4 linked regions of the Homo sapiens genome follow. The protein of the gene in region 3 interacts with the protein of the main gene of each other region in a pairwise test. Each region holds a gene or a part of one and is shown on either strand. Other genes may lie near its edges.

The links.
Region 1: the proteins of KDELR2 (region 3) and GRM1 come close enough for resonance energy transfer, tested with the Homo sapiens proteins (one large-scale study listed by BioGRID).
Region 2: the proteins of KDELR2 (region 3) and PDGFRA come close enough for resonance energy transfer, tested with the Homo sapiens proteins (one large-scale study listed by BioGRID).
Region 4: the proteins of KDELR2 (region 3) and TTYH2 come close enough for resonance energy transfer, tested with the Homo sapiens proteins (one large-scale study listed by BioGRID).

Annotation. Positions count from the first base shown.
Region 1 is NC_000006.12:146,429,050-146,436,583, reverse strand, and holds part of GRM1 (metabotropic glutamate receptor 1 isoform alpha precursor), read right to left. Parts: intron 2,713-7,534; coding exon 1,788-2,712; 3' UTR 1-1,787. UniProt on the Homo sapiens protein: G-protein coupled receptor for glutamate. Ligand binding causes a conformation change that triggers signaling via guanine nucleotide-binding proteins (G proteins) and modulates the activity of down-stream effectors.
Region 2 is NC_000004.12:54,275,644-54,283,177, reverse strand, and holds part of PDGFRA (platelet-derived growth factor receptor alpha isoform 1 precursor), read right to left. Parts: intron 5,791-7,534; coding exon 5,686-5,790; intron 5,283-5,685; coding exon 5,172-5,282; intron 4,817-5,171; coding exon 4,663-4,816; intron 2,863-4,662; coding exon 2,696-2,862; intron 1,598-2,695; coding exon of another isoform or gene 1,497-1,597; exon of another isoform or gene 1,200-1,496; intron 1-1,199. UniProt on the Homo sapiens protein: Tyrosine-protein kinase that acts as a cell-surface receptor for PDGFA, PDGFB and PDGFC and plays an essential role in the regulation of embryonic development, cell proliferation, survival and chemotaxis.
Region 3 is NC_000007.14:6,469,015-6,476,548, forward strand, and holds part of KDELR2 (ER lumen protein-retaining receptor 2), read right to left. Parts: intron 5,271-7,534; coding exon 5,170-5,270; intron 741-5,169; coding exon 582-740; intron 1-581. UniProt on the Homo sapiens protein: Membrane receptor that binds the K-D-E-L sequence motif in the C-terminal part of endoplasmic reticulum resident proteins and maintains their localization in that compartment by participating to their vesicle-mediated recycling back from the Golgi.
Region 4 is NC_000017.11:74,253,527-74,261,060, reverse strand, and holds part of TTYH2 (protein tweety homolog 2), read right to left. Parts: intron 7,307-7,534; coding exon 7,228-7,306; intron 933-7,227; coding exon 852-932; 3' UTR 1-851. UniProt on the Homo sapiens protein: Calcium-independent, swelling-dependent volume-regulated anion channel (VRAC-swell) which plays a pivotal role in the process of regulatory volume decrease (RVD) in the brain through the efflux of anions like chloride and organic osmolytes like glutamate.

The sequences.
Region 1 (7,534 bases), on a different chromosome or scaffold from region 3:
GGAATAAAAGTCCATGAACATAAAAATTAAAAGAAGGCAAAATGTGATTGATAAAGATTTTACAAATTATTAGCTGAGTTAGATGTTACTGTATGTTAGACACTCAAGTAGCTGTGGAAAATCTTTAAAAAAATGATATAACCTGGAATAATCTAAATGCTTTGTTCAATCTTATGTGTTAATAATGTGTGCAAGCTTATAAAATGTACCTTTTATTTTCACTCTCAGTTTTTGTGCACTTTTAATATAACAAATTTTCAAACCACTTCATTAATAACATATCTCCACATCAGAAAATATCTGAAAAATAAGTTCCATCTTAGAAGAAAAATGTCCATCCGAGCTGCATATGAAAACCTTGAGCCATAGTATTCAAACCGTCAAAGAGCTTCTGTAGATATTGATGACAATGATGTACAAAACATTATTGGAACATAAAAAATATATATAGTATATTCAAAAGACAATTTCTAATTGCAGTTAGATTGACTACTAGGTTGACATTGACCAGTCAATTTGACATTACATTGCACAAATTTTACGATCGCACATATACAAGGACACAGGAACACATTCACTCGCTAGTTACAAGGACTTCAGTGACAATAGGATAGAATTATTTGTCATTTAAACCAGTAATAGTTGCTATGAGTACACCATTAGATTCAAAGATGGATTTGTTTCTCTAATACGTAGGAGAAATAATGGCACCAAATTGTACATATACGCATCTTAGAAGTTCAACTTGTAGGTATTATTTGCTACAGTAAGTGGAAGGTAACAATTTTGTCACATGGTTTGTTCTTTAACTGAAGGTCAATGGAAAGCCCGCTTGGCACAAACACAAGTCAATCTACAAAAGGGTTTCTGCCACTCTCGTAACAATCTCTTGTTCCGGCCTTTTCCCCAAATCGCCAATAAGTGAATATGGAACATGAGAAGCTGATCATGTGTTTTTTTTTCAAAGTCTCATGCTGATGGATTGTTCTATTTCTAGCTCCTTCCTCCTGTAGCACGCCTGATGAAGCACTTTTTGGTGATAATTTTGCTCTTATTCCTGTTTTCCTAAATAAAGGGAATCTGCAGAGCAGCAGGGGGTCCATGCACCTTTCTTCAAGTGCAATCTCAAAGCTGGCACTGGATGGGTTGCAGTGGATGAAGAGAGACCCCTGTGCCGCTCCATTCCTGAGTCTCCTGAAGATGAGGAGTCTGTCAGCCCAGCGGGGAGAAGGGCTTCTGAGCAAGGAGCTGCTGTCCCATCATCCCATCATCCGTTTGGGATGGGTCTGGCCTGGGCCCTTCCCTTCCCCGCACCTGCTCTGTCTGGCTCCACCAGCTCACTCCGAATGCCATCAGGTGAACTCATGATCCGACTGGCATGTCCACGTGGGCTGTTCCTTGGCAAGCATGGCCCAGTGTGTGTGGGCATATATATATCTATGCACAATTGTGCAAAAGAGGACATTATGTTTGTGATGTCACTATTTGATTTGTGATAAAAGTTACATACCATATGGAATTGTGCTTTGTCAGAATTCCCTTTCTTCCCAGAGAAGGCTTCGAGTAATTCAAGAATCCGAATCCTGGCCTGGAACATTTTTTGCTTGGTGTCCTTCCCTCTCTTCCTACTTAAGGCAGCAGCAGCAGTAGCGGCAGCAGCAGCAGCGGTCTCCTGTCCTCCCGACGAGGCCCCCCACTCCCAGGCTTTTCCTCCCAGCTGTTTGCACATCTCTGGAGGTGTGGGAGATCTCTGGCTTGTCTTGCTTTTCTATGTGGACCCTTCCCCCTTACAGGGTGGAAGAGCTTTGCTTGTAGTCCCGCAGAATGACAGAGGCGTAGGATACGTTGGGAGGGGTGCAGAGCACCGACTCGGACACGGGGGAGCTGGGCACCGAGCTGCCCGAGGCCACCGAGTCGCGGAAAGGCGACGGAGGCGTCAGCGCAGGCGAATCATCCGGGGTCAGTTTGCTGGCCGCCTGCAGGTCCTCCTCCTCCTCTTCCAGTTCGTCTTCTTCCGTGTTCCCTTCCCGCTCGTGCTCATACACGTACTCCTGGAGGAGCTTAAACCTCTCGCTGTCGTCGTCGTCGTCCGCGGGCGGGGAGACCAGCTCCTCCCCAAAGGTGCTCAGCTGCAGCGGCAGCATCTGCAGGTGCTGCGGAGGTGGCGGGGGCGGGTACAGGGACCGCAGCCCGTTCCCGGGACCACCGGGGCCTGCCAGCACCGCGTGAAAATCCGGGATCGCGGTACTGAAGTTGCTGACCACTCCCTGGAGCTGGTCCATCAGCGATTTCTGCTGTGGAGGGGGTTGCTGCTGCTGCTGGAGAGGAGGGGGCAAGCCCTTGGGGAGGGCTGGTTCGGCCAGGAAGAGGGGGGTCTCCTCTGCGGTCAGGTGGGACGGCAGAGGCGGAGTGGTCGCCGCGCTTGGCACGCGCCTGTGCACCACCATGGAAGGGCTACCAGGCGGGCTAAAGCGAATCGGCTGGGCATCCTCCTCCTCCTCTACGTTGTAAAGGGTCTTGGTGCTGGTATCTGAAAAGGTCAGGCTCTTGCCAGAGCCTTGGTAACTTTTAGTGAGGGGCTTGATGACGGCTGTTTGGTTGCAGGCCGTCTCATTGGTCTTCACGTGCACAGAGAGGCGGTGCCACATATGCTGTCCCTTGGGCACCTGTCCTCCACCTGGTTCAGACCATGACACAGACTTGCCATTAGAACTATGAATAAAATAGAGATGGATTTATTTGCAGATAGATCATGCACACAGGATAAAATACATAGAAAACATATGCAAACCTAGCTCAGTGTGATTTAACTGCTGTCTCTGCTGTAGGCCTTTGCTCCAGCACCCCATACCTCCTCTTACAAAAAGAACACCAAAAGCTGAAGGAAATATTGACCCTGAGAAAAGTTGTTGAGGAGAAAAGCCAGTCTGTTGTAGAAATAGCTATTTTCATTTAGGTCTAAGATTTCACAAACCTCTCTTTTTTCTCCGTTGCACTCTCTCCCTCTCCCTCTGTCTCTCTCTGACACACACACACACACACACACACACACACACACTTTTGAAAAACTCCCAACTGATGGAGGAAAACTTTAAAAAAAAAATCTTAGTTACACATGGACAACCAAAATAATGGCTATTGTCCTTGGGACAAATTAGGACCCACATACAAAGCTACTCTCGTTGTGTTGTGGGATTATAAAATAGATCCTCTCAGTTGCCCATTCTCATATGCAAGTATTTCCCATGACCAGGGTGGCGTGATCACACAGGGTACCTATAAGGAACATAAAAAAGCAGATGACAGAAAAACTCAGACTCATGGTCAATTTATGAGCTTCATAGCTTTTGATTTTTTTAAAACATTTCAATGCATTATTTCTCACACATACAGTGGATCACAATTCACACAAAGGCCCTGACTCACAGAAGCTGGTTTGGGATTTTCACTCTAGGAACATTGAAATAGCTGTATTTGAAAAGCAATAGAATGAGGAAGCCAGGAAAAATACAAATGCCCACATCCTGCTTTAGGATAGTTTGATGCAAATAAGAGAAAATTATGATTGAGACAAAGCAGCAGTTACTGAGACGAAAACCTCTACTCATTGAGCCTTGGTGAAGAAGAGTCTTAGGGTGCCAGGAGCATCCCAGCCTTATCAACTCCCATCTTCATGGCACCCACAGAAAAGCAGCCATATGGAATTTCTCCCTGAATAAGAAAATAAGAAGATGTACTGTGGCCTACACCCCAAATTCTGTTCTGTCTATTGTAATAACTCTGATCTCACTTCTGGACTCAGCTTCTTTTCTGTATAACTTTAAGCAGATGTTGGTACCTTACCATAGCCTTCTACTAATAACAACGGTGGAATCCTTAAATCAGGAAATAATTGTTTCTTTTCTTTTTTTAGAAGTTTGCTTTTTCTCTGTACTCAGTAAAATGACAGAGAAAGTAGCATAATAGTAACACATTTATGACATTAAAAGGAATATAAAAATGGACATTTTTTTCTTTAAGTGGAGGTGTGAAATAGACTAATCCATATTCTAGTTTTTGTTTGGAAAAAATGTAGGAAATGATCAGTAGTTTAAATAATGGTTTATTTCATCATCTTGAGAATACAAGAACGAATACTTCAAAAATTATATGTGAGCATCATTTATGATGAAGGTAATATTTTGACATTTCATATTTTATAATCTTGAAAAGTAAAGTGAGCCAGATAAGTACAGATGAGTGTAAATGTCTGATATTGATTATAGAAAATTCTGGATATAAAGGCTCTAAAATAGATAAAACAGTTAAAGTTTTGACCTGATTATTTGAGAAATAGGTAGTTCCTCCATATATCTGATACCCTACACTGCATTTTTAATTGTCTAAGACAAAGCTCATCTCTGTTATGTCAAAGTTAATATTTCTTTCAAATATATGCCTTACACATTATCTGAGACTGTGGAAGTGCTTGTAAAGTTTTTAAAAATTGTCTTATTGACTTCCACACTATCTTGTTGGAATAGCTGACTCTTTTCTGAGGTAAACAAACTAAAGAACAGGTCAGTGGTGTCCCTGGCAAGAACAGGTAGTCAACCAGCTAGCCAGAATCACCACCAGAATCCACAGTTGCTCTTCTGAGCTTAAAACTGTAGGTAAACTCATCTTCCACTTAATCTTTTTCAACTGCCCCATCATCTACCACTATACACACTTTGTTTTTTTTATGCATTCAATATGCCTCTTCTAGAAAGGCAAATATAAAACTTATTTGCCTCTTACCCTCCTTAAGTATGCCTTACTATATATAGCATCCAACTCAATAATTTGCATCATTTTAAATTGCAATGAAAAAAATGTTTCCTTCCCCATCTTCCCACTTCTTCATAGGCATTAGGAAATGCCTTTTTAATGTTCACCAGGAAAATGCTTAAACAAAATGTTATCCTGTATCTATTTAGTTGTGTGTGTGTGTGTGTTAAAACAACAACAACAACAACAACAAACAGGTCCCTTGAGAAATAATCTGCCTCTAATTCAACCAGCAGGCTTAGCTGTTCCAATGACACATTGCCTTAGTTTCTACACATAATAGCAAAAAGGTACCTTGTTTCCTGAAAGCCCTAATGTGATCCACTTCACCCACTCATTCACATGGGCTGTTTTCCTCATTGTCCACAGGTTCTATGTGGGCCTCTTTTTAAATCAAAAGCACCCATAAGTTAACAGTATTATTAATCATGTTGCAGACAGATATAATCAGAATTTAGTTCTGTTTTAATTAAATCCAATTTTTATTGTTGAGATGGGACATTTTCACTATGGCCTTCAAAACTGGTAACTTTCGTTCCCCTCAGTCTTGCTCTAGATTTGCTGTAAAGTACTTTTAATTAGGAAACAGATCTCACACCTCAGGGCATTTATCAGATTAAGAAAATTAGTGTAATCTTTTTTCAAGGATAAAATAAACTGCTTTTTAAAAATCAAACATAGTAGAAGGAATGTATCATCTCACAGACATTGCAGCACTGAGTACAAACTTTAGTTCTTCAAGATGAGTCATTTCTTACCTGTGGTCCATAGATAATCTGAAAGGTCCATGCATCTATACCTGCATTAAGCATTGTTTTTAAACTGAATAAATATTATGTATTTGTAGACAATGCACTGCTGTTTTTAAATGTATGTAGATGCTGTTATGATAAAGAGTGTTATTCAATACATGTGTAACTAAATTCTGGGAAGCTTTTGTTTTGTTCTGTATTCAAATGGCCGTGAAGAGAGGTATATTTAGTAATAATAGATTCAGGTGAAGGCTTAAGAACTGTTTTGGTGAGAAAAGAGAGTATCTTATTTGAGAAGGCAGGGAACCCACTACTGTGATATTAAGAAGAGAAAAATATGTAAAATCAAATCCATTTATATCAAGAAAGAATAAATACATTATAAAAATGCAATATTATCCTGCAATATGACATTTATTTAATCCCAGATAACTTTAATCGTTTCTGCTTCTGCCACCAGCTTCTTCCTTCTATTGTTTAATTTTATTTGGCTTCCTAATCTTAGGAAAAGCAATCTGGTTTAGAAAACACCACATAATTGTTACAAAGCACCTGAACCTTTTGCTCCGACTTCAAAAGACAGACCTGAGGCCTAAATCAATCTTATATTTGAAGATCAAATGCAGAGGCATTTAGAGTAAATATCTCAGGTGGCTCAATTGGAGGAAAACACTGTTAGGCCTACAGGATGTATAGGATAATGTATAGTTACTGTGTGGACAGCTAGGCAGGCCTGAGGTTGCAGTTCCAGCAACAACAGGTTCGGGATCTTGCTTTGGTTTTTCTTTCATTAGTTAGCTATCGCAATCCCCCAAACAGAAAACCCAATATTTACGGCACTTTAGAGAATAGTTGAGAGTGGGTGGTGTAAATAGATTAGTGTATCTTTGGCATTCAGTGATCCTGTCTGTTTTATTTGTTTCAGTAAGTACTAGTTACATCTGCAGAGTACACTGTTCTCTGATCCAGAGAGGTTTAAAATGGGAATAACAGTGGGTGGGTGTTTGAGATCATCAGGAGGGAAGCCTCCTGCACAAACTGCCTGAAGGGGAAGCTTACACAACACCTGTCTCTCTTATGTCCAAATCAAGTCTTTGCCTCTAGGCTTAATAGCTTCACAACAGATACAAGGACAGTATCCAGAAAGCCCACAGATAATGCAAGACCTTCGCGTAAGAAAGAGAGGCTCACTCCTGGGAACCTGAGGAGGGTAGCATTTGTTTTCTCTGAAAGTGAAAATGGAAACGGAAAACACCATTGAGTCCCAGCAAGGAGGGAATTGGCTCACCAAGAAAAAAGATAAAAAGGCACAGACTTCGGGACAGTTCTGCTCTGGCTCCCGCAGCTACAGCTAGAACATGAGGCCTGTCAAGGAAGGGGAGGTTCTGACCCCACCAAGACTTTCCCAAAGGAATGCTGGAAATACAGCTGTCCAGATATTTCAACTTCACATTCGTCAGCCCTCTGGTACCCTAGTGCAGCTTGAGAAGTAGGTCTTGTAGAATCTCAGGCCTAGGAACTATTTGACACCAGTTGTATCAGACTTCTGTTTTCCCAGGCAACCTCGAGTTTGTCATCAATACAAAGGACTCCCACTGACTCCAGCTCCACTTCTTGAAAGCCTTCCAGAAAAATCTGCATATTTAGAATGTATTCTCAAACTTGGGGGCCTATCTGAACATAATTACAATTTCTCGCCTTTTTGACTCACCACTAGCTGTAAGGTAAAGAATTTCTGAGGTGTTTTTTAAGACAAATGCTTTCTAATTATATGAGAACTTGGTAGTTTCTGTTGATATGACATCTTAAATGGCATTGTGAATCTTAGCCTTTTCCCCTTTAATTCTACCTTCATCATAAGCTAGTCAGAGAGTCATTGGCTTGCTAAAATTAGAGAATATCACAAAGTCTAAGTATGCAGTTCTTCTTTTAGGATCTTTAGATCAATTACATCCTACATCCTCAAGTTATAT
Region 2 (7,534 bases), on a different chromosome or scaffold from region 3:
ACAGAGTCTCCACTGGGGCACTGCCTCGTGAAGCTACGAGGGGAGGGCCACCATCCTCCATGAATAATATATCCACCAACAGCCTGCACTCTGCACCAGGAAAAACCACAGGCACTCGACAACAGCCCCTGAGAGCAGCTGCAGGGGCTAAACCCTGCAAAGCCACAGGGTGTTCCATCCCTCCCAAGAGCTCCACCCCTTGCATCAGTGTGCTCTGGACATGGGATATGGAGTCAATGGAGTTTATTTGGAGTTTTCAGCCCTGCTGGGTTCTGAACTTCTGTGGGGCTTGTAGCCCCTTTCTTTTGGCCGATTTCTCCCTTTGGGAATGGGAATGTTGACCCAATGCCTATAACCCCATTGTATCTTGAAAGTAAATAACTTGTTCTTTATTTTACAGGCTCATAGGTGGAAGGGACCTGCCTTGTGTCAGATAAGACTTTGGACTTTGAGTTGATGCTGGAATGAGTTAAGGCTTGAGGGGACTATTGTGGAGGGATGATTGTATTTTGAAATGTGAGAAGGACATGAGATTTGGGAGGGTCCAGGGTCAGTATGATATAGTTTGAATATGTGTCCCCACCCAAATCTCATGTTGAATTGTAATCTCCAGTATTGGAGGTGGGGACTGGTGGCAGATGAATGGATCATGGGGACAGATTTCTTACGAACAATTTAGCACCATCCTTCTGGTGCTGTCCTCGCAATAGTAAGTGACTTCTTGTAAGATCTGACTGTTTAGAAGTGTGTGGCACCTCTCTCTTTCTCTCTCTCGCTTGCTCTTGCTCTGGCCATGTGATGTGCCTGCACTGCTTTGCCTTCTGCCATGACTTCATGGCTTCATGAGGCCTCTCCAAAAACTGAGCAGATCTACCAGTATCTTGATTCCTGTAAAGCCTGCAGAATCATGAACTAATTAAACCTCTTTCCCTTATAAATTACCCAGTCTCAAGTATTTATTTATAGCAATAAAAGAACAGCCTAAAACACACAGAGACATACACGCACACACAAAACACACACACAGCCACAAGGACCAATCTTACACATAATTATTTTGTTTACCTCCTAAATTTCTTTTTTTCAACCATAATTAGCAAATCATCTCAGCTACCTTTAAAACACACATACACATAAACACACACTAAAATCTTCCATGATGAAATACATGGAGCACACATACAAGCTACATGAAAAAGTAGTTTCTGTGAATTGCTTTATTTTCTTTTTAAAGCCACCTTTGTAGTACTTTGCTTATAATTTGTTAATAAAATCAACCACCAATCACATGTGATAGCATCTTAGAGATCAGTGCCAATGACTTTCCTTTGAGTTTCTTTGTTTGTAACTTGTCCACTTTCCCCAGTTAGTCCCATCTGGAAGGGTCCCAGGGTTTTCGAGGAAGAAGGCAATTTAATCCAGAAGTTCTCAATTCTTTTTGAAAATGTTCAGCAAGTGAAGAGTAGCTCTAGCCATTCACGATTTTTTTCAGATAGTCACGGAAGGCCAGAAAGCAGTGGTCTGCCTGCCAACAGGGCTTGGGCCTGAGCATGACTCAGGTTCCTCTGACATCTCGTGCCAACTCCACCAGCCCAGCCTGGGAAGCAATGTAAACTATTTTTAACAATATGGGAGGGGAGAGGAAGTACTGGTTCCGATAACTCTCACTGGCTAATCTTTTAAAAGCGCTTGGAAGTTCACCCATTTGGCAATGAGAAGTGAATGGAACTTGGAACCGCAGAAATGGAAAATATTGTGTACTGAGCTTTGCAAAACAAACACATTCTTTTTTAAATGGATTGTACCTTTCACTTAAGAACCTGAAAACATTCAGAGCACATCAATAATTTCCAAAACAATGTCCAGGGCAGCTCAACACTTTTTTGCATTGACTAATGGGAAGGCTCAGACCCAAAAAGGCAAGCTCACAGGACAAGCCAATGTCAGACTTCCAGCTTCATGTCTGTGACCAGTTCAGGGCTCTGGAGGAACCACCCTGAGCAGATGTGAAGTGATCCATCTGGTCTGGGCATCAGCTGGACTCCCTGGAGTTTATAAATCAATTTAACCCTGCCACATATTCATGTACTTGAAAAACAGATAGACCCACCTTCAAAATACATTCAACAGAAACACTGGTCCAGAAAATATAACTGCAAATTATCTACTCTAGAGTTCCTATCACAAATTGAATGTTAGGAAAAGTAAAAGCAAGGGTTACTGAACTCATAGACATCAGAGACTTCTAAAACTTAAGGGAAAAAAAGCAAGGTGAGGAACCAACATAAGACAGCCAACTTGTAATTCTGCCAAGTAAGGGCATTAAAAAAAATCAATCACCATATTTTCATTAAAAAAGAAAAAGACAGCAATAAAAAAGGAAGTTCATTATATCAGAATAAATAATTATTTTTTTTAAAAAATGTTTACTGCAGGAACACACCAAGAAAATTCTTTAAAACTATTAAATTTAAAGTTTAAAAAATTTGTTACATTGTCAGCTTTTATTCTTTTCAATTTACAGGCCACAAACCTGGAAACATGTCACAGAACTGGTTGTGCAGACCTGCATTTAGAGACCACGTGGGCTGCCAGGTTCACTTACCATCCCTATACACTTCCCTCTAAATACTTTAAGTATCATATTAAACCACTGGAAAGTCCCAACACCCAGAGTGAGTATAGACACTTTTACCTAACATAGATTTCTTCTTATATGAGGCTGGACGATCATAGAGTGATCTCTGGATGTCGGAATATTTAGAAACCTCTTTCCTTTCTAGCATGGGGACATACTGTGTAGTATCAGCCTGCTTCATGTCCATGTAGTCACCATTGTTTTCAAAAGATAAAATAACATAGCTGTAAAAACAGAAAGAGAAATCTTACCCAGGGTGCCCTTCTGAAGTGGTCATTCCACTTTCAGTAGATGATGATTATGTGCCAGGTACTGAGGTAGGCATGGGAGCTAACTGGGTAAAAGCAAAACCAATCCATACCTTTCACATGAGGTGATCTAGTCAAGGAAATGAGCATTAATCAAATAGTCGCACAAATACATGCATCACAGCAATTCCACTACTGGGTATCTACCAGAGGAAAGGAAGTCATACTAAAAAGATACTTGCACACACATGTTTATAGCAGCACAATTCACATATTGAAAAAATGTGGAACCAACCCCAAATGCCCATCAATCAAGGAGTGGATAAAGAAACTGCAGTGTATCTATACATATGTATGTGTAGGTGTGCATATATATATATATATATGTAACTCAGCTATAAAAAGGAATGAATTAATGGCTTTTGCAGCAACCTGGATGGGATTAGAGACTATTATTCTAAGTGAAGTAACTCAGAAATGGAAACCAAACATCGTACGTTCTCACTCATAAGTGAGAGCTAAGCTATGAGGATGCAAAGGCATAAGAATGACACAATGGACTTGGGGACTCGGGGAAAAATTGAGAGGCAGGTGAGGGATAAAAGACTACAAACTGGGTTCAGTGTATACTGCTCCAGTGATGGGTGCACCAAAATCTCACAAATCACCACTGAAGAATTTACTCATGTAACCAAATACCACTTGTTCCCCAAAAACCTATGGAAATAAAAAAATTTTTTAAATAGGGAAAAAAAGAAATGTAAAAAACAAAATAAATACACAGATCAACTCAAACTCAGCTGTGTTGTGAAGGAAGAAAGGTTTCAATAGCTTGTAAGGAAAATGACTTGATCTGGGGGTCAAGGAAGCACTTTTCAGAAGACGTAGAATGGATCCCACTGACAAAGATGGGAAAGACTAGCGGAATATTTGTCATGGCACCTGGCACATACAAAGGACTCCACAAATGTCAGCTGCCATGATGACTACTGTTCACTTGTTTTCAGAGCCAGTTCCCTGCACATCCTTAGCAGGAGCCCGCACATCCTGAAGAGCCACATCTAAGACAGTGGGGCTGTGCTCCCATGGACCTGTAAGTCCATTACACTTAAAGTTTGAAGAATTCACTACGTTAAGTCTGTCATTATTCTTTCTCAGTTTTTCAACTCACAAGCCTTGGTTGGAACTTGAGCCGTGTGGCCATGTGGCTTGGGCATACAATTCCTTCTACCCAATCAATTTAGCACCCATTTGGTGTCCACCAAGTAATTTATTATGAAGTGAATTCATTGTACTTTCTGATCTTACAGAATTTCTTACCTACAGAGTTCTTTATAGCCACTTGTAGATTTCTGCAGTAGGGATCACTATCATTGACGTCATTTATAGGTCCAGGTTCAGCAAGGACCTCGAGCTTGGAGATCCACAGACAGTTCTTGCAAGGTTCCAGAACTCAAGCATCCCTGGCCAGAGCTGCATTTTATAGGTCTAAGTGGATCACATGTAAATAGCAGAAGAGCTCCCAGAGTCATTCTAACTCACTCTCATTCAAACCTATCAGCAAGGCCTTCCCATGTGACACCCCAGTCCAAAACACCTTTAGACATCATGCATCTCTCTGCATGACCATGGAAAGACTGGACAGGGTGGTTTGACTCTAAGTCTTGCTACCTTGGGCACTGAATCTGCAGACATGATATCTATCAGGACATGGGTCTTTCCATTTGTGATGCCTGTAAGATAATGATAGACAGCAACATCTCTCTTTGCACCCACCTCCGTGTGCTTTCATCAGCAGGGTTCAATCCAAAGATATCCAGCTCTTTCTTTGGCTTCTCTGGGTGGTGGCTCAGGAAGCTATCCCTATTCTTATGCAAATAGTTGACCAAATCTCCATAGAAGCAATACTCTGTGATGATGTAAATGGGGCCTATGGGGACAAAAGCCGTTAGGAGATGGGTATGAAAATGAAGAACAGAAAAGCCATGAATTGTCCTGCAGACCATATGGCACAGAAAAAAATAAGATACCAAAAAAGTTTTTTTTTTTTTTTTTTTTTTTTTTTTTTAATAAAGAGCCATGAATGGCTATGACTGGACTGGCAACAGATTTTGCTCAAAAACCAATGAGCTTCCATCAATTCAAGGGACCAGTCAGCTCCATTCAAGGGACTTCTATTCCCTGCCATGTGTGGGGATGGAGAGTGGAGGATTTAAGCCTGATTGAACAGTTTTCACAACCACATGTGTCCAGTGAAAATCCTCACTCCAGGTCAGTGAGCCCACCTGACTTGGTGCAGGCTCCCAGCAAGTTTACAATGTTCAAATGTGGCCCCAGGTGAGTCATTATCTTCAGTTCAGACATGAGAGCTTGTTTTTCACTGGATCTGGCCGTGGCTGTTGAAAGAATAAATCACATATCAGTCCAGCTGAGCTACCAACTTCCTGTTCTCAGAAAAAAACCAAGAATATGACTAATCCTGTGATTGGATATCATTCTATTTACCAGAAGTCTAAAAGAAGCAGATAGCTACTTGGCCTCAGTGCTAATAACTAATTCCTGGTCTTTCTAGTAAAAAGAAGTCACTGGAAATAACAAGCTCTTAATTTTCCAACATACAGGCAGCAAGAGCAATCTAAATAAACCTAATCTAAATACACATAAAACCTGGAGTCAAAATAATCAGGACCTAGTCCTAAATGTCTTATTTACTAGCTGCATGATTTTGAGAAATTCCCTTAATATCCCCATGCTCAAAAAATCCCCGTGCTCAAAAAATCCCCAGGAAGGAGCACTTACGTTTTAGCATCTTCACTGCAACTTTCATGACAGGTTGGGACCGGCTTAATCCATAGGCTGTTCCTTCAACCACCTTCCCAAACGCTCCAGACCCCAAGACCCGACCTGTGGGCAGGCAGAATCATTAACACCCAAAAACTCCAGACGCCTCCTCAGCTTTCTGCACCGTAGCCAGCTCTCTGCGGGCGGACAGCTGGGCGAGTGTCTTTCCTGTTTGGAGTAATCATAATGACTCCTCCAAGTCATCGTGTCAAAAAAGGAATTGAGCCCACAGGGAAGGAAATTAGCATAATTGCTTTTGTCGAATAACACTTGCAAGGGAAAGAAAACACAGACGGGAGAAAGGAGGGTGCAGCCCTCCCTGGTGTGAGCGCGCTGTCTACCAGCTCCGTGCTGGGCCAGCCCCTGGGATCCTCTTGCCTTCGGGGCTCTCACCCACACCTCCTGGCTCTCTCCCCTTCTGTTTTCCATATGCAAACAGGGGCATCTTTTGTCTTAGTAAATTACTAGCCACTGGAAATACTTCAGTATTCAAAATATCACTGATTCTAAGGAGTGACTAAATAAAAACTTCAGGCTGGGCTCACTGCTCCCTATTTGTTAGGAAAGCCACTCTACCAAGAGCTAAACATGCCCGAGAGCACAGCAATTAGCTTCATGTTGGGAGGAGACATACGTAAAGACACTGAAGCTGTTGTCCCACCCTGAAAGAGCTCACCCTGAGAGAAACATTTCCCGGGGTGTCAGTCTCACCACGGATAGCCAAGCCAGGAAAAGACTTGGCTCATAAAAGACACTAACAGCCAACACTGCCTCTTACTGCACGTCTGTGTTACTGAAAATCGTACCTGGAAAGGTATTGCTTCACCAGCAATGCCTCTTGGTATAATGGGAATTATGCCCTTTTCCCCATATTTTACTACTTTTTAACTCCCTAAGCTCCTCATCCCTTGTTGGGAAATAGGCAGGAAAATAAAGAAAGCTTAGATATAAATATTTGAAATTGGGGGGCAGCTCTTATAACCGCCCCATGGATTCTCCTTGTCCGCTGCCTAGACAGAGCCGATTTACCAAGACAGGGGAATTGCAATAGAAAAAGGGTTTAATTCACACAGAGCCAGCTGTACGGGAGACCTATTCTACTATTACTACTATTACTCGAATCAGTGTCTCTGAAACTGGGGGAATTTCTACTATTCTGCTATTACTCAAATCAGTGTCTCTGAAACTGGGGGAATGGGGTTTTTAAGGATGATTTGGTGGGTAGGGGGTGAAAAGGGGAGTGCTGATTGGTTGGGTCAAAGATGAAATTATAGGGAGCTGATGCTGTCCTCTTGCACTGAGTCAGTTCCTAGGTAGGGGCCCCAAGATCAGATGAGCCAGTTTATTGACCTGGGTGGTGTCAGCTGGTGCATCGAAATACAGGGTCTCCAAAATATCTCAAGCACTGACCTCAGGTTTTACAACAGTGACCCCTAAACCATACTTTCTAATCTTGTAGCTAATTCGTTAGTCCCGCAAAGGCAGTCTAGTTCCCAGGGAAAAAGAGGGTTTGTTTTGGCAAAGGGCTATTATTGTCTTTTTTTCAAAGTCAAACTATAAACTAAGTTCCTCTCAAAGTTAGTTCGGCCTATGCCCAGGAAGGAACAAGGACAACTTGGAGGCTAAAGCAAAATGGAGTTGGTTAGGTCATATCTCATTCACTGTCATAATTTCCTCAGTTACAATTTTTGCAAAGGTGATTTCACTCTGGTGCCTTGCTTGATTTCAGTTTACCTAACTCTCTAAGAAGACTTAAACTCTTCTGTATTTTGCAATGAGACCGGTGGATAATTAAAACCTGCATTTG
Region 3 (7,534 bases):
AATCTCAGCTCACTGCAAGCTCCACCTCCCGGGTTCACGCCATTCTCCTGCCTCAGCCTCCCCAGTAGCTGGGACTACAGGTGCCCGCCACCATGCCCAGCTAATTTTTTTTATTTTTTAGTACAGACGGGGTTTCACCATGTTAGCCAGTATAGTCTCGATCTCCTGACCTCGTGATGTGCCCACCTTGGCCTCCCAAAGTGCTGGAATTACAGGCGTGAGCCACTACGCCCAGCCATAACCTCTTTTTTCTTTTCCCTCGAGACAGTCTTGCTCTGTCACCCAGGCTGGAGTACAATGGCGTGATCTCGGCTCACTGCAGCCTCCGCCTCCTGGGTTCAAGTGATTCTCCTGCCTCAGCCTTCTGAGTAACTGAGATTACAGGTGCGTGCCACCACACCCAGCTAATTTTTTGTATTTTTAGTAGAGACGGTGTTGCACCATGTTGGCCAGGCTGGTCTCGAACTCCTGACCTCATGATCCACCCAAAGTGGAGGCTGAACTCCGCCTCGGCCTCCCAAAATGCTGGGATTACAGGCATGAGCCACCATGCCTGGCCCTAAGTAACCTTTTAAACTAACCTCAAGAGGAGAGAAATCGTGATTAACTAAAAATGAGAGGCCTCCCACAGGGACCACCAGAAACTCCACTCGGAAGGTATCATGATTTCCATCGTAGGTTGCCTTAAATTTCAGGTAGATCAGGTACACTGTGGCATAGGAGCAGGCAAGGTAGATAACCTACAAATAAAAGAAAAAACACCAGGTGTCAATACCTTGCCACTGTTCCAGCACCCCCCAGCTTTTTTAATCACCCATGTATTTGGAAAGGCAAGATTTTTTTCCTTAGCTTTGTTTTTGGAATTTTAAAACTTAAATATAGTAAAATTCTCTTTTTTGGAGGTGTTCAGTTCTGAGGCATAACCACCACCAAAATTAGGACACAGAATAGTTCCATCATCCCCAAAATTCTGCCATGCTGCCGCTTCGCAGTCAAACTCCCCCAGGCTTCCTTCACCTCCTGCAGTGCAATCACACTTATGTTCTCTGTCCATAGTTTTGCCTTTTCTAGAAAGCCACATAAATGGAGTCACATAGTATGTTGCCTTCTGGGTCCAATTTCAGTTAGCCTAATGCATCTGAGAGGCAACCAAACTTATTGTGTGTATAGCAGGTCTGCCAATAACATCCTTTGGTTGTAACACTGATGAGAAAAGAAACTGGTTCCCGGCTGGGGCCGCCATCCATGGCGTTTGCATGCTCTCCCCGAGTCCACGTGGGTCTTCTCCAAGAGATACTCTTGGAGAATCTCCCACCAGAGATACTCTGGTTTCCTCTTACATCTCAACGATGCCAGTTAGGTGAACTGGCATGTGTGAACTGTCCTAGTGTGAGTGGGTGTGGGTGAGCGCGCCCTGTGATGGAATGGCATCCTATGCAGTTGGGGGAAAGTTCGCGCCTTGAACCTGAGCTGCTGGGATAGGCTCTGGCCACCTGGGACCCTGAAATGAAGTAAGTGGGTTGGAAAATGAATACAAACTATGGTAAAATAATTCATAAAGTAGTATACAATAATTATACATATGTACCACAATAAACAATGTAGTACAAAAGCACTCAGTGAGCCTGCTATATTTGTTATTGTTTGTTTTTGAACTTTATGGTAGTAGGAGGTACTCCTTATAATTTTTGTTTGTAAACATATACTTCTTGATTTAATCCGCCACCACTATGACCACCATCATGCACGGATTCACCAAAAACTGGATAAATAATTATGTTGCTTTTATTAATCTTTCTTAAATGTATAGCTCATGTTGGCTGGGCATGGTGGCTCACGCCTGTAATCCTAGCACTCTGGGAGGCCGAGGCAGGCGGATCATGAGGTCAGGAGATCGAGACCATCCTGGCTAACATGGTGAAACCCTATCTCTACTAAAAAAAATACAAAAAATTAGCCGGGCGTGGTGGCGGGTGCCTATAGTTCCAGCTACTCAGGAGGCTGAGGCAGGAGAATGGTGTGAACCCAGGAGGCGGAGCTTGCAGTGTGCCGAGATCTCGCCACTGCACTCCAGCCTGGGTGACAGACTGACTCTGTCTCAAAAAAAATAAAAAATAAATAAATAAATAAATAAATAAATGTATAGCTCACATTTGTTTCGGTTTTTTTTTTTTTTTTTTTTTTTGAGATGGAGTCTCGCTCTGTCGCCCAGGCTGGAGTGCAGTGGCACAATCTCGGCTCACTGCAACCTCCGCCTCCCAGGTTCAAGCGATTCTCCTGCCTCAACCTCCCAAGTAGCTGGGATTACAAGCGCCTGCCACCATGCCCAGCTAATTTTTATATTTGTAGTAGAGACGGGGTTTCCATGTTGGTCAGGCTGGTCTCGAACTCTTGACCTCAGGTGATCTGCCTGCCTCGGCTTCCCAAAGTGCTGGGATTACAGGCGTGAGCCACAGCACCCGGCCTGTTTTGGGTCTTTATTTAAAAGTCTGGTGGTGTTTTGGGGACCGGAAATATGCTGTAGGAACTTAACTCTTACTCATGTCAATTAGCCTATGGTAAAACTGGCTTCAGTGTATGTTGTTTCACTTCAAGTTGCAGTGTGTGTTGTTTCACTTCAAGAACCTACCAATGACATTAAGTGAGGGCCTAGTGTTAATAATTTGTTCCTTTTTATAGCTGCGTCCATTGGTGGTCCATTGTATGGATGCACCAGTTTGTTTATTCACTCACCAGTTGAAGGACAGGTGGTTTCTAATTTGGGAGGACAGTGGATAAAGCTGCTGTGAACATTTGCGTACAAGTGTTTGTGTGAATGTAAGTTTTCACTTCTCTTGGGTATGTACTTAGGGGTGGGACTGCTGGGTCATATGTTAAGTGTAAGTTTAACTTTTTTTTTTTTTTTGAAACGGAGCCTTGCTCTGTCACCAGGCTGGAGTGCAGTGGAGCAATCTCGGCTCACTGCAACCTCCGCTTCCCGGGTTCAAGCAATTCTCCTGCCTCAGCCTCCCCAGTAGCTGAGATTACAGGCGCATGCCGCCACACCCAGCTAATTTTTAGTAGAGATGGGGTTTCACCATGTTGGCCAGGATGGTCTCGATCTCCTCACCATGTATGTGAATAAATACAAAACAAAATCTACATGCATAAACAAGACACACATCCATCTACACATGCACTGAGCCCCCTCAGCGCATCTAGCCAAGGCTCACAGCAGAGAGGCCTCTCACCAGGACCTAGACTGTGGCCAGCTCAACATTAATAAAAACTTGATGGGCGTTATTTCCACTAAGGCCTTAGCAGCACCTGGAGAAGAACAGCTGCTTCTCTCCTCTCACCAGCACACAGAAGTTAAAGTAAAAAGACACGAGCACCTCGGGTCTCACGCCAGACTTTCAGGACATCGTGCTTAGAAACTACAACCAAGCAAGCATGGATTCCTCTGAAACCTGGGCATCCTGAGGGGGAGAGAGGATTCTTGCTCACACACCTCTAATGCCTGCAGTTTTAACTTGCCTAGACAAGTGGGGACCTAACCATTTTTAAGTAAGCTCATTATTTCCTGAATACTAGGTTCCCATCATTTGGTAATGAAGAATCCATTATAAGTGACTCAAATTTGCTTTTTAGTAAAGACCAGACTCACATACTGCTTTGTCTCCTTTCAACAGTGCTTATGAAAATGCTCTTGAACACAAAATGTTGGGGGGAGGTTGTTTAGGTGCCATACCAATAGGATTCAGTTGAAATATTACTTCCTTGGGTATGCTAATAACCAAATGGCCTAGAATAGTGCCTGGTGCACAGGTGCTCAGTATTTGTAGAAAGAAGGAAAGAAAGAAAGAAATCAGACTCCTATTACATATCCTGAGAGCCCCTGTTCTTTTTTTTTTTTTTTTTTTTCAGACAGGATCCTGCTCTGTCACCCAGGCTGCCAGGCTGGAGGGCAGTGGTGCAATTACGGCTCACTGCAGCTTCAACCTCCAGGGCTCAAGCGATCCTACCACCTTACCCTCCTGAGTAGTTGGGACTACAGGAGTATGCCACCATGCCTGGCTAATTTTTGTATTTTTTTTTTTTTTTTTTTTTTAGAGACAGGGGTCTAACTATGTTGCTCAGGCTGGTCTCGGATTCCTTGGCTCAAGCAATCCACCCACCTTGGCCTCCCAAAGTGCTGGGATTACAGGCGGGAGCTACTGGGCCTGTTTCATGTTTTTTATATCCATAGGTTCGCAACTCTTATACTTTTCCTTTGTGGCACCCATCATAAATCGCAGTCATTTGTACTGCCATGATCTGTGTACTCTCCCACACCAGCCTAGAGACTTCTGCTTATTTTCTGCCGCATCCTCAGTTCCCAGCTCTGTAGGTGTTCACAAGCATGAATTCAACACTGTGCGAAAGAACTGAAGCTCACGTAGTCCACAACTTCCCCCAGTGTGGGGTGTGTGCCACCAGTGCTACACAAAGTGTTAGGTGGTGTGCAAACATTTTGTATTTTAATAGTTATACACTAGTTTTAATGTGAATTAGAAAAAATATAAGAAAGACAACAAAGGTGTTATAGATACTAATAATTAGGACAAGTTGAAAGGTTTAAAAAAATACGTTACTAAGTAAATGATGGTATAGAGATCATTTAAGCACGGCAAATGTAATAAAAATGACACACACACAACAGTTTAAGTAAAACTGACTCAGTGGCAAAGAAAAAAGATAGAAGCCTATAGACAGTTCCTCACACAGCAGCGAAATGAGACACTGCAACTAGGAGTCCTGCTTTCGTTCCTTGTTATGTACCAACTTGCTGGATTTCTCTGGGGACTCTGTAATTTCCCACGGCTTGAAAATATAATAGTTACCGCTCTTACTTACAGAGTTATCAAGAGCTTTAGATTTATCATACTTAAGGAACCTAAAATAAAAAAGTTCTAACTTCAAAGTATTTTAATTAACTACTGTTTTGAAACCAAAAATGTATGCTTACTGATAGCTCGTTTAGTCCCAGTTATATATACAAGGTGGTCTGAAAGTTTTAAAGTCAAGAACAGCATATTAAGACATTATTTTTGGAGCATTTTAATTAAAAATACACAGCTGACATAAATTAAGTGTCCATAGACCTGTGCACTGTAGATGAAATACATTCCTGTGGATGGCATACCATACCTTCATAGATGTGTTATACAATGAAATAAATGAAGTAAAAAGATCCAGGTAACGAGTTGTGAAGACCAGTGCAAACAGAAGCTGGCTTTTCCCAGAAATACCTAGAGAAACAGAAGGGAAGTATTAGAAGGGCCTGAAGAGCTTTGGGATTCCTGTGGATCACACTGTGCAGGGAGTGCAGACAGGGAAGGAGGGGTGCGTGGGGTCAAGGCCCAGGTCTAGGGATGGCTCTGAATGAACAAGAGCAGTTGTAGTTTTTCTATCCCTTCCCATTCCCAAACATGCTCCTTTTGGGAGGCTCTAACAGGCTTTTCTGTCTCACTATAAAGGGCGACCACAGGAAAGGGGCTTTATTATGCCAGGATGTGTATCATTCAAACGAACCTTTTACTTCTCAAATATATCACCTTAAGTAGGAACAAATTTCTCAATAATTCTGCTGTCATTTAGTGTTATAACTTGTCTCTTACATTCAGATTTTTCTTTTTTGTTTTCCCCTGAGACAGGGTCTCCCTCTGCTGCCCAGGCTGGAGTGCAGAGGCACGATCAAGCTCACTGTAGCCTTGACCTCCTGGGCTTCAGCAATCTTCCCACCTCGGCCTCCAGAGTAGGTGGGACTAGAGGTGTGAACTACCACACCCAGCTAATTTTTAAACAAATTTTTTGTTCACCATGTTGCCCACACTGGTCTTGAACTCCTGGGCCCAGCTTCCCAAAGCGTTGGCATTACAGGTATGAGCCATGTCGCCTGGTCCCTTCTTTGTATGGTAAAACAGTATCTCCATGGTGAGAAATCTTTTGAGAACGGAGATGGAGTCTACTGTCATTAAGGGGGATGAGGAGTAGATGAGAAGCACCGACTCAGGTAAGAGTTGGGCAGGAACTCCCGCTGGAATAATGGCATCGCATCCCATGGTGACTTCTTTGCTAAGAGCGGCAATTACTTGGATATGTTAAGATTTTTAAAGCTTCCCTCTCAGTTAGGCATAGTGGTCATGCCTATAATCTCCACATATAGGGGGGCTAAGGCGGGAGAATCGCTTGAGCCCAGGAGTTTGAGACCAGACTCCATCTCTACGAAAAATAGAAAAGTGATAGCCAGGCAAGGTGGCACACACCTGTGGTCCCAGCTACATGGGAGGTTGAGGTGGGAGGATTGCGTGACTCCAGGAGGCTGAGGCTGAGTGAGCTGTGGTCACATCCCTGCACTCTAGCCTGGGTGACAGAGCAAGACCCTGTCTCAAAAAATAAATTAATTACAATAAAATAGAAATTCCATTGTATTTGTATAAAAATGTTCCTGAATGCTAGGACAACATGAAGGTATGAACCCACAACTACAGCTGGTCTTCAAAAGCAGCTGTCTTTTTTAAAGCCTTGAAACTGTGTTTCCACTTCCAACCACCAACCCACCTCCAGAGCACTGCATGGCACAGCCACACTCAGCCAGGAAGGCTGGACATTTATGTGGTGTGCACACAGCTTTTCTGACATCTATATTTGGCCAAATATTTATGTGACAAAGGACGCAAACTATGGGTTTCAGATGCTGGAGACTGAGCAAATGCATTAAAGAAACTGAAGGCTGACTAAATGTCAGAACCCACCCACCCTCATCTATAATGCATACTTCACACCACTACACATTTTAGTAAGTATGAATTTAACAGAAAAGTCACTTCACCCAAATCATTCACAACACTCCTCTGGAACGTGAAAAGCACATTATTTTTCTTTTCTTTTTTTGAGACTGGGTCTCACTCTGTTGCCCAGGCTGGAGTGCGGTGGCACAAGTACAGCCCACTGCACCTTTGACCTCCCTGGGCTGAGGTGATCCTCCCACCTCAGCCTCCTGAGTAGCTGGGACTACAGGTGGGTGCACCACCACACCTGGCTAATATTTGTATTACATGTTGTTTTTCAATATTTTATGAACAATCATTTTGCAGCTTGCTGAAACTGAAAACCTGAATGTAAGAATGTTACTTTCTCAGATGAATAACTGTAGTCTCAGCCTATTCACATACACATCTAAATAGAAATGGAAAAAAATGTTGATGCCACCCTTCCAGATCCATCAATAGAAACCAAAGGGCCAAAGGAGGAGACACGGACAGTGAATCTGCTCTTAGTCTTTTCCCCGTAACGGATAACTGATTTCTTCCTACAGAGACCAATGTTCCAAAGGGGAAATGACAAGGCTGCTGCTAACCAAGAAACCGGGAGGTTTCAGAGGGGGAAGAAGAAAGAACAGGGAGCAGTCAGACCATACCTGGTGTTTGTTGAAGCCTTGAGAAATCAATTTCCAGCTTATTTCCTATATGGTTCTTTCCAATATTTTAAATATAAACATACAGGATACAAG
Region 4 (7,534 bases), on a different chromosome or scaffold from region 3:
ATTCTTTGGATAATCAACATGTTTAAAACACTGGAGAAAAGAAAGACCTAAAGTCGTTTCAAAGTGTCTGTTCATACCTGAGACCATGCCTATCTGCAGCTAACACATTCTGCAGCATTGATTCTGGAATAGAGGCGAGGCAATGGAGGGTTAGGGAGACAGGCGGAATGTGGCAGGCTTTCACCTCTGTTCCCACCGGGGTTCACCAGCCTGTGATCCCCCAGCCCCGGAGCCACCAGCCCCCCACTGCAGAGCTTTCCTGATGCCTCCCCTCTGTGGCCCAGGAAGAGCCTGTCTGGCCCTGGGAACTCTGATTTGGGCTGTTCTGGTGTCAGCAGGGGTGCGAACTTCTTAAAGAGCATCTCCTGATCAGCCCTTCTCATGTTACCTGCAGGGAACGAGGACAGGGAACGAGGACAGAGGGGTCGTCTGGGCTCTTGGCTGGGCTGACAAGAGGCAGAGTCATCGTTGTGGGACCAGAGAGAACACACAGCTCTCTTGATGGTGGTGCCTGACCTGGCCCCCTCCTCACTGCCACTCCCCTCCTGGCAAGGGCGAGGCGTAGGGGTGAGCAGGGCCAGGCAGCCAGCTCAGGGATGGTACCTCTGAGGCAGCCAAGCACCTGGGGGCATTTCTGGTGTGGAGAGCAGGGCAAAAGAGAGAGGCTGGCCCGCGTGGTGAGTCTTCTGCACCCCCTGGGGCTTTGGTCGGGAATCCCAGCTGCTCCTCTGCCACAGCAGGAGGCCTCTCGGGCTCCAGATGCCTTTGGTTTCTATTAAAGAAACGCAGCTTGTATTTGCACTAATTAAAAACCAGAACGGAAAAAGGAGGCAGGAACCCCCGAAAGTCTGTTAGGCTGGAAACTGATTCCCGTAGTGCCTCAGGTGCTCATCCGCCACAGACAGGTAGGTGGCTCTCATGCTGGGAGAGTACTGCCAAGAGAGAAGAGAGGGGATGGTCAGAGCTGAGTCAGCCAAGCACTGCACCAGCAAAGGTGCCGGGGACTTCTCAGAGTGGAACTGGGTCGGGTGTCAGAGGGAAACCCGGCCGTGCCTCCACCCCACATCCATCAAGACTTCTGCCTCCCAGCCTCAAATAAAAAATGCACACACAGACCAGCTGTCCTCCAATGTCCACTCCGCCCCAGCACACACCCCCAGCATCCAGCCTGTCCCCTCACACTGGGGGCAGCGTCAGGGTCCACCAGCGCACGGAGGAGCAGTCAGCAGCCAGCAGGCTGAGGGCAGAGGCCCAGAGACTCAGAGAAGCAGGTTCAAATCCCAGCTGTGCATCTTACCCCGTGACCTTGGCTTAGGTTCTCCAGCCTTTTCTAGCCTCAGTTTCCCTACCTGCAAAATGGACATAAGAGCACCCAGCTCTTACGTTGAAAGGGCGAAATGATATGGAGCAGGGAAGAGCCTTAATAACACAGCTGCTCTCAAACTGGGCTGCTCGCCAGAAACACCTGGGGAGCCTAAAAACATCCCGATGCCCAGGCCACATCCACTAGTATATAAATATGTATATTTTTGTTGATGCAAAATGCACATAACGGTGGTGATTCATACCTGTAATCCCAGCACTTTAGGAGACAGAGGCAGGAGGATCGTTTGAGCCCAGGAGTTCGAGACCAGCCTGGGCAAAATGGCAAAATCCTGTCTCTATCAAAAATACAAAAAATTAGCTGGGCATGGTGGCATGCACCTGTAGTCCCAGCCACTTGGGAGGCTGAGGCAGGAGGAGAAGGTACTTGAGCCCAAGAGGTGGAGGTTGCAGCAAGCTAAGATCACACCACTGCACTTCACCCTGGGCAACGGAGCGAGACCCTCTCTCTTAAAAAAAAACAAAGACCACACACATAACATAAAATGAATTTAAAGAGCTATCAGTGTTTTTAGAGCTCTTTAGGCAATTCCAGTGTGCATTCAAGTTGGAGGAGCATGACCCAGTACAGAGTAGGTGCCTGACAGAACTTAGTTACTCGTCCTTGGCAGTGGAGAGGGCCTTTCACTCTATACCCTGCACACAGGCTACCTGGGGATCTTGTCCACAGGACCTGAGATTCTGCACTTCTAACAAGCTTCCAGAAACTGCCACTCTCCTGACCCGGGAAGCTTCAGGGGTCCAGGCCATTCACATCAGGGGGAATGGAATGCTTCCACTTGGGCTGGGGTTGGGGAGGAGGGAGCATGAGGTTTTCGACCCAGTGGGTCTCAACCAGGGATGTTTTTACCTCCCAGGGGCATTAGGCAATGTCTGGAGATATTCTGGTTGTCACAACTGGGCACTGGGCTGCCACTGGCATGTAGCAAGTAGATGCCAGGGATGCTGCTAGACGTCCTACAATGTACAGGAACCCCCCACCGAGAATGACGCTGCCCATCAATAGCACTGAGGCTGAAGAAGCTGGCCTCAGAGCAGTGGTTCTCCAAGCGTGGTTTCCAGGGCAGCAGCAGCAGCTTTACCTAGGAATATGTCAGACACGCACATCTCCGGCCAGGCACGGTGGCTCACACCTGTAATCCCAGCACTTTGGGAAGCCGAGACAGGTGGATCACCAGAGCTCAGGAGTTCAAGACCAGCCTGGCCAACATGGTGAAACCCTGTCTCTACTAAAAATACAAAAAGTCAGCTGGGCGTGGTGGTGGGGGCCTGTAATCTCAGCTACTCAGGAGGCTGAGGCAGGAGAATCGCTTGGTCCTGGGGAGCGGAGGTTGCAGTGAGCCGAGATTATGCCACTGCACTCCAGCCTGGGCAACAAGAGTGAAACTCAGTCTCAAAAAAACAAAAAAGGCACATCTCCAGGCTCCAACTCAGATTTTCTGAATCAGAAACAGGGTGGGTCCCTCAGGCGATTCTGATGCATACGCAAGTATGAGACCCTCCTTCTTCTTTTTTATTTTCTTTGAGACAGAATCTCACTCTGTCACCCAGGCTGGAGTGCAGTGGTGCAATCTCAGCTCACTACAACCTCCGCCTCCTGGGTTCAAGTGATTCTCCTGCCTCAGCCTCCCGAGTAGGTGGGATTACAGGCACCCATCACCATGCCCAGCTAATTTTTGTATTTTTAGTAGAGACGGGGTTTCACCATGTTGACCAGGCTGGTCTCGAGCTCCTGGCCTCAAGTGATCCACCTGCCTTGGCCTCCCAAAGTGCTGGGATTACAGGCATGAGGCATGGTGCTGGCCAAGACCCTCCTTCTTAAAGCAATATTTCCCAACTTGAATGATAATAAGTTTGTTAAACTTAGAATCTCCCAGGCTCCTTCCCCAAGATATTCTGTTTCTGTAAGTCTGAAGAGAAGTCTCAACGTCAGTATCTTTAACTGCCCTGGGTCATTTTTGTTCATCAAGTCCAAGAAACAGTGCCTAAAAGGACAGGAGAGATTATTCCTTGAAGGCAGAGCTGGGGGAAGAAACATTTCCAGCAAGGGACAGGCTGTATATCCCGATCACCAGGCGTGACATCACCCACCCAGTGAGGTCCCCTGACTGTCCCAGAGAGGGTGCTCGGCAGAGGGAGGAGTTTATCCACCTCTCGAACTTGCTCGGTGCTAAGGAGTGTTTAGAGCAGGCGCCCCGGGGAGGGTGGGGCGCAGCCAGCTGTGCTGTCTTTACTGGGGCAGACACCCACACCCTCCATGCTGTGGGGTTCCTTGGTCTGCGGCATCATTAGATGTCTCTCTAGGTCCCTTACCGGGCATGGAGGTGGAAGGGTCTTCCCAGGGCAGGCTGGGCTAGGTGGGACTGGGCAGTCAACTTGGCCAAAGCAATAAGTGTTTCTGGGCAGGTCTTAAATCTAGGGAGGAAGGGTTTTCTGTCCTTGAGCCTTGCAAATAAGGTCAGTTGCTGATTATCTCTGCTAACGGCAGGATGAGTGGCCTGGATCTTTCAAACAGAAGGGAATCTGAAAATCATTTTTATTTGGCATCACAGTGCATAGAGTAATTCTTTTTTCACAGCAGATTTCCCCTAATTACGTTGTGCTTAGATTAATATTAAAGTCAATCTGCATTCCTGGGGCCACGGCAGCTGGTGGTTGGAAAAAGGAACCCGGGAGGCTTCTGATTAGTGAGAGAAGCTAGGCTGGCATTTAAAAGGTGCTGACTTTTAGGCTGGGCGTGGTGGCTCATGCCTGTAACCCCAGCACTTTGGGAGGCCAAGGCAGGTGCATCACTTGAGGCCAGGAGTTAGAGACTAGCCTGGCCTGCATGGCGAAACCCCGTCTCTACTGAAAATGCAAAGATTAGCTGGGTGTGATGGCACGTGCCTATAGTCCCAAGTACTTGGGAGGCTGAGGCATGAGAATTGCTTGAACTCAGGAGGTGGAGGATGCAGTGAGCTGAGATTGCACCACGTACTCCAGCCTAGGTCACAGAGTGATACTCTGTCTCAAAAAAATAAACATAAATAATAAATGGTGCTGACTTTGAATACAGGTTCAACCAGCCCACTCCCGGGGACCCCAGGAAGAAAGAACGACATGAGGCTGGGGCTTGTGTTTGTAAAGCTGTGGGATGGGACAGCAGGTGAGGTGCTCCAGGCAAAAGCACCAAGGTGGTGGCACAGGAGTGAATGACAGGGGGATTGGTTCCAGCAGGCTTGCTAGCAGGTAGAGGCCAGGGATGCTGCTGAACATCCCACACGCAGAGGACAGGCCCCATAACCTATGGGCATTTGGGGCTGCACCGTGCTTTGTGGTGGGTGCTCCACTCCCTAGATGTCAATAGCATCCAGCCCCCATCCCCAGCCTCCAAGCGTGGTAATGAAAATGCCTCCAGACATTGCCAAATGTCCCCAGGGGGGAAAACTGCCCCTGGGTGAGCCCCTGCTCTACACTGTGGCTCAAACGCCACCTATTAAATAGAACCTTCTGGAATCCCCTAGAGCAGCAGCAAAGATGGCTCCTTCTTTCTGGTCCCAAAGTACCTTGTAGCACTTTCTACAGGCAGCCTTCTTGAGTGCCCCTTCTATAGACTGGAACTTCCTGAAGACAGGGACTGGGTTCCACTTGCTCTTTTCTCGGGTCTGACACTATGATTTTCACCAAGCGCCATGACCGGGAAGCTGACTCCCTGGGTGCCTGTGCGTGCACTTCCTGGGTCCTCAGGGCCCAGGTCTATCACGCTGGTCCCAGGTATTTGGGCCCCAGTGCTTCTGCTTTCCTGTTGGATGTCCCCTTCCAAACTATCTGGGTCGGGGCACTGAAATGCCTCGCCAGGCCCAATGAAGGGAGATGCCTGGCTCCAGGACCCTTCTGCCCACCCCATGGCAGACTTCTGGCCTTTCATTCCCCTTGTCCTTTCTTATAAATGCCACAGCTCTGGCCGGGCACGGTGGCTCATGCCTGTAATCCCAGCACTTTGGGAGGCCAAGATGGGTGGATCACCTGAGGTCAGGAGTTCAAGACCAGCCAGCCCTGTCTCTGCTAAAAATACAAAAATTAGCCAGGTGTGGTGGTGCATGCCTGTAATCCCAGCTAGTAGGGAGGCTGAGGCAGGAGAATCACTTGAACCTGGGAGGTGGAGGTTGTAGTGAGCTGAGATGACATCACTGCACTCCAGCCTGGGCAGAAGAGTGAGACTCCGTCTCAAAAAAAAATAAAAAATAAAAAATAAAATAAAATTGATAAATGCCACAGCTCTGTGGAGAAGGTGGGGTGGAAGAAAGTCACAAATAACAGCTCACTGTCCTACGGCACTCACTGGATGCTTCGCACGTACGCTCTGATAACAATCAATTTGCCCATTGCACACACCACCGAGGAGGAATGTGCTAGTATTCCCATACTCATTCTATAGATGGGGAAACTGAGGCACAGAGCAGCAAAGTGCTTGTCCAAAGTCACAGAGGCCATAAGCCATGAGCTGGGATTTGAACCCAGGCCTTTGGCACTGGAGTCCGTGTCCCTGAACCTTGGCGGTCACTTCACTGTCTGTTTACAGCTTTCTTTGTCTCAGCCAGTATTTCTGTGTCCTTTGGATACTTCTCTGGGATGAGACAGCATAGTCTTTCCTTCTCAACCTGCCCACCCTGAGCTACTCCCCTGAGGCTGTATCTCAGGTACTCTGGCTGGAGGTGGTGGGGTGGACAAGAGGCACTGGCCCTACTTGGGCACAGTCCTAGGGACATGGGGAGCTGAGACGGATTGAGGAAGGCTGTGTTTGGGTTCAGCCCTCCCAGACCCGCCACCACAGCCAACCCACCGTCCAGCCCAAAAGAGACCAAGGATTAAGGTAAACAGAAATCTAAAAAGAAAAAAAATTCCTTAATTTTCTCTGGAGCAAAAAGGGAAAGAGACCCCCTCTCTTCTTGCAGTATTTCCTTTAGAAAACTTATCATTGTAAATAATTTCTGTCTTTTGAGATGTCTGCAAACCTTCTTAAAGGCTGAATATGGCCCTTGCCAGTGTTACAATCCAGGTATGGTTTTTTCAGGTCTGGGAGCCATCTCTTGGAAGTACAAACATCAGGAAGACAGCACCTCATCTCCTTCTCAGTGACAGTTCACTTAGGGGCCTGGCTCCAAGTTGTAGCTATCTGATTGTCACGGAAATAGGAGTTTTATTTTTCCTCTGGATAAAGGCAATTAGCTGGCCGGGCGCGGTGGCTCATGCCTGTAATCCCAGCACTTTGGGAGGCCGAGGCGGGTGGATCACCTGAGGTCAGAAGTTTGAGACCAGCCTGGCCATCATGGAGAAACCCCATCTCTACTAAAAATACAAAAATTAGCCTGGCGTTGTGGCACGCACCTGTAGTCCCACCTACTTGGGAGGCTGAGGCAGGATAATTGCTTGAAACCTGGGTTGCAGTAAGCCGATATTGCGCCACTGCACCCCAGCCTGGGCAATAGAGTGAGATTCTGCCTCAAAAAATAAATAAATAAATAAATAAAGGCAATTACTTAACCAGGATGGCCACCCCAATTAGCAAGTGGATTAAGGTGGACTACTGTGACAAACAGTGCCGTCAAGTCCTCTTGCTGGATGACAGGTATGCAGTGGGCTGTGTCTTGTTCCTGCCTGGCTAGGGGAAGGAGTGAGATTTCTTGCATCTTTGCAATCTCCTTAGCGGACTGCCTGGGATACCCACGACGGTCTGGTTTAGTGCATATTCAATAACAGAACAGTTTCATTCTTTTCTGCCTTTGTGGACAGGATTCACTGGGTTGGCAGGAGGTTTTGTCTTTATGTATTACCCCAACAAGGAAGGGCCAGAGCCCCAATTACCGTAGGCGGAGGGGAGGCTCTCCCGATTAGTGGCACGTTCTCGTAGCGTGGGTTCCTACCAAAGAGCATGGCTTGGTTCCTGCGGGGATGAGAGGAGAGCTCAGGAGGGGATGGTGTGGGAGTGGGGGTGTGTGTAGATTTCTACAGGAGGGTCCCATGGGTGAGCACATGGGAGGTGGGGGATGGAACCAAACCACAGATAGAGTGGAGGGGGTGCAGTGGGCAGATATGGAGAAGAGCACCTTGGGAAGCCTGGGGACAAGTGGCTGATGGGCAACGGAGGCTGGGAGCAGCATGGCCTGGAGAA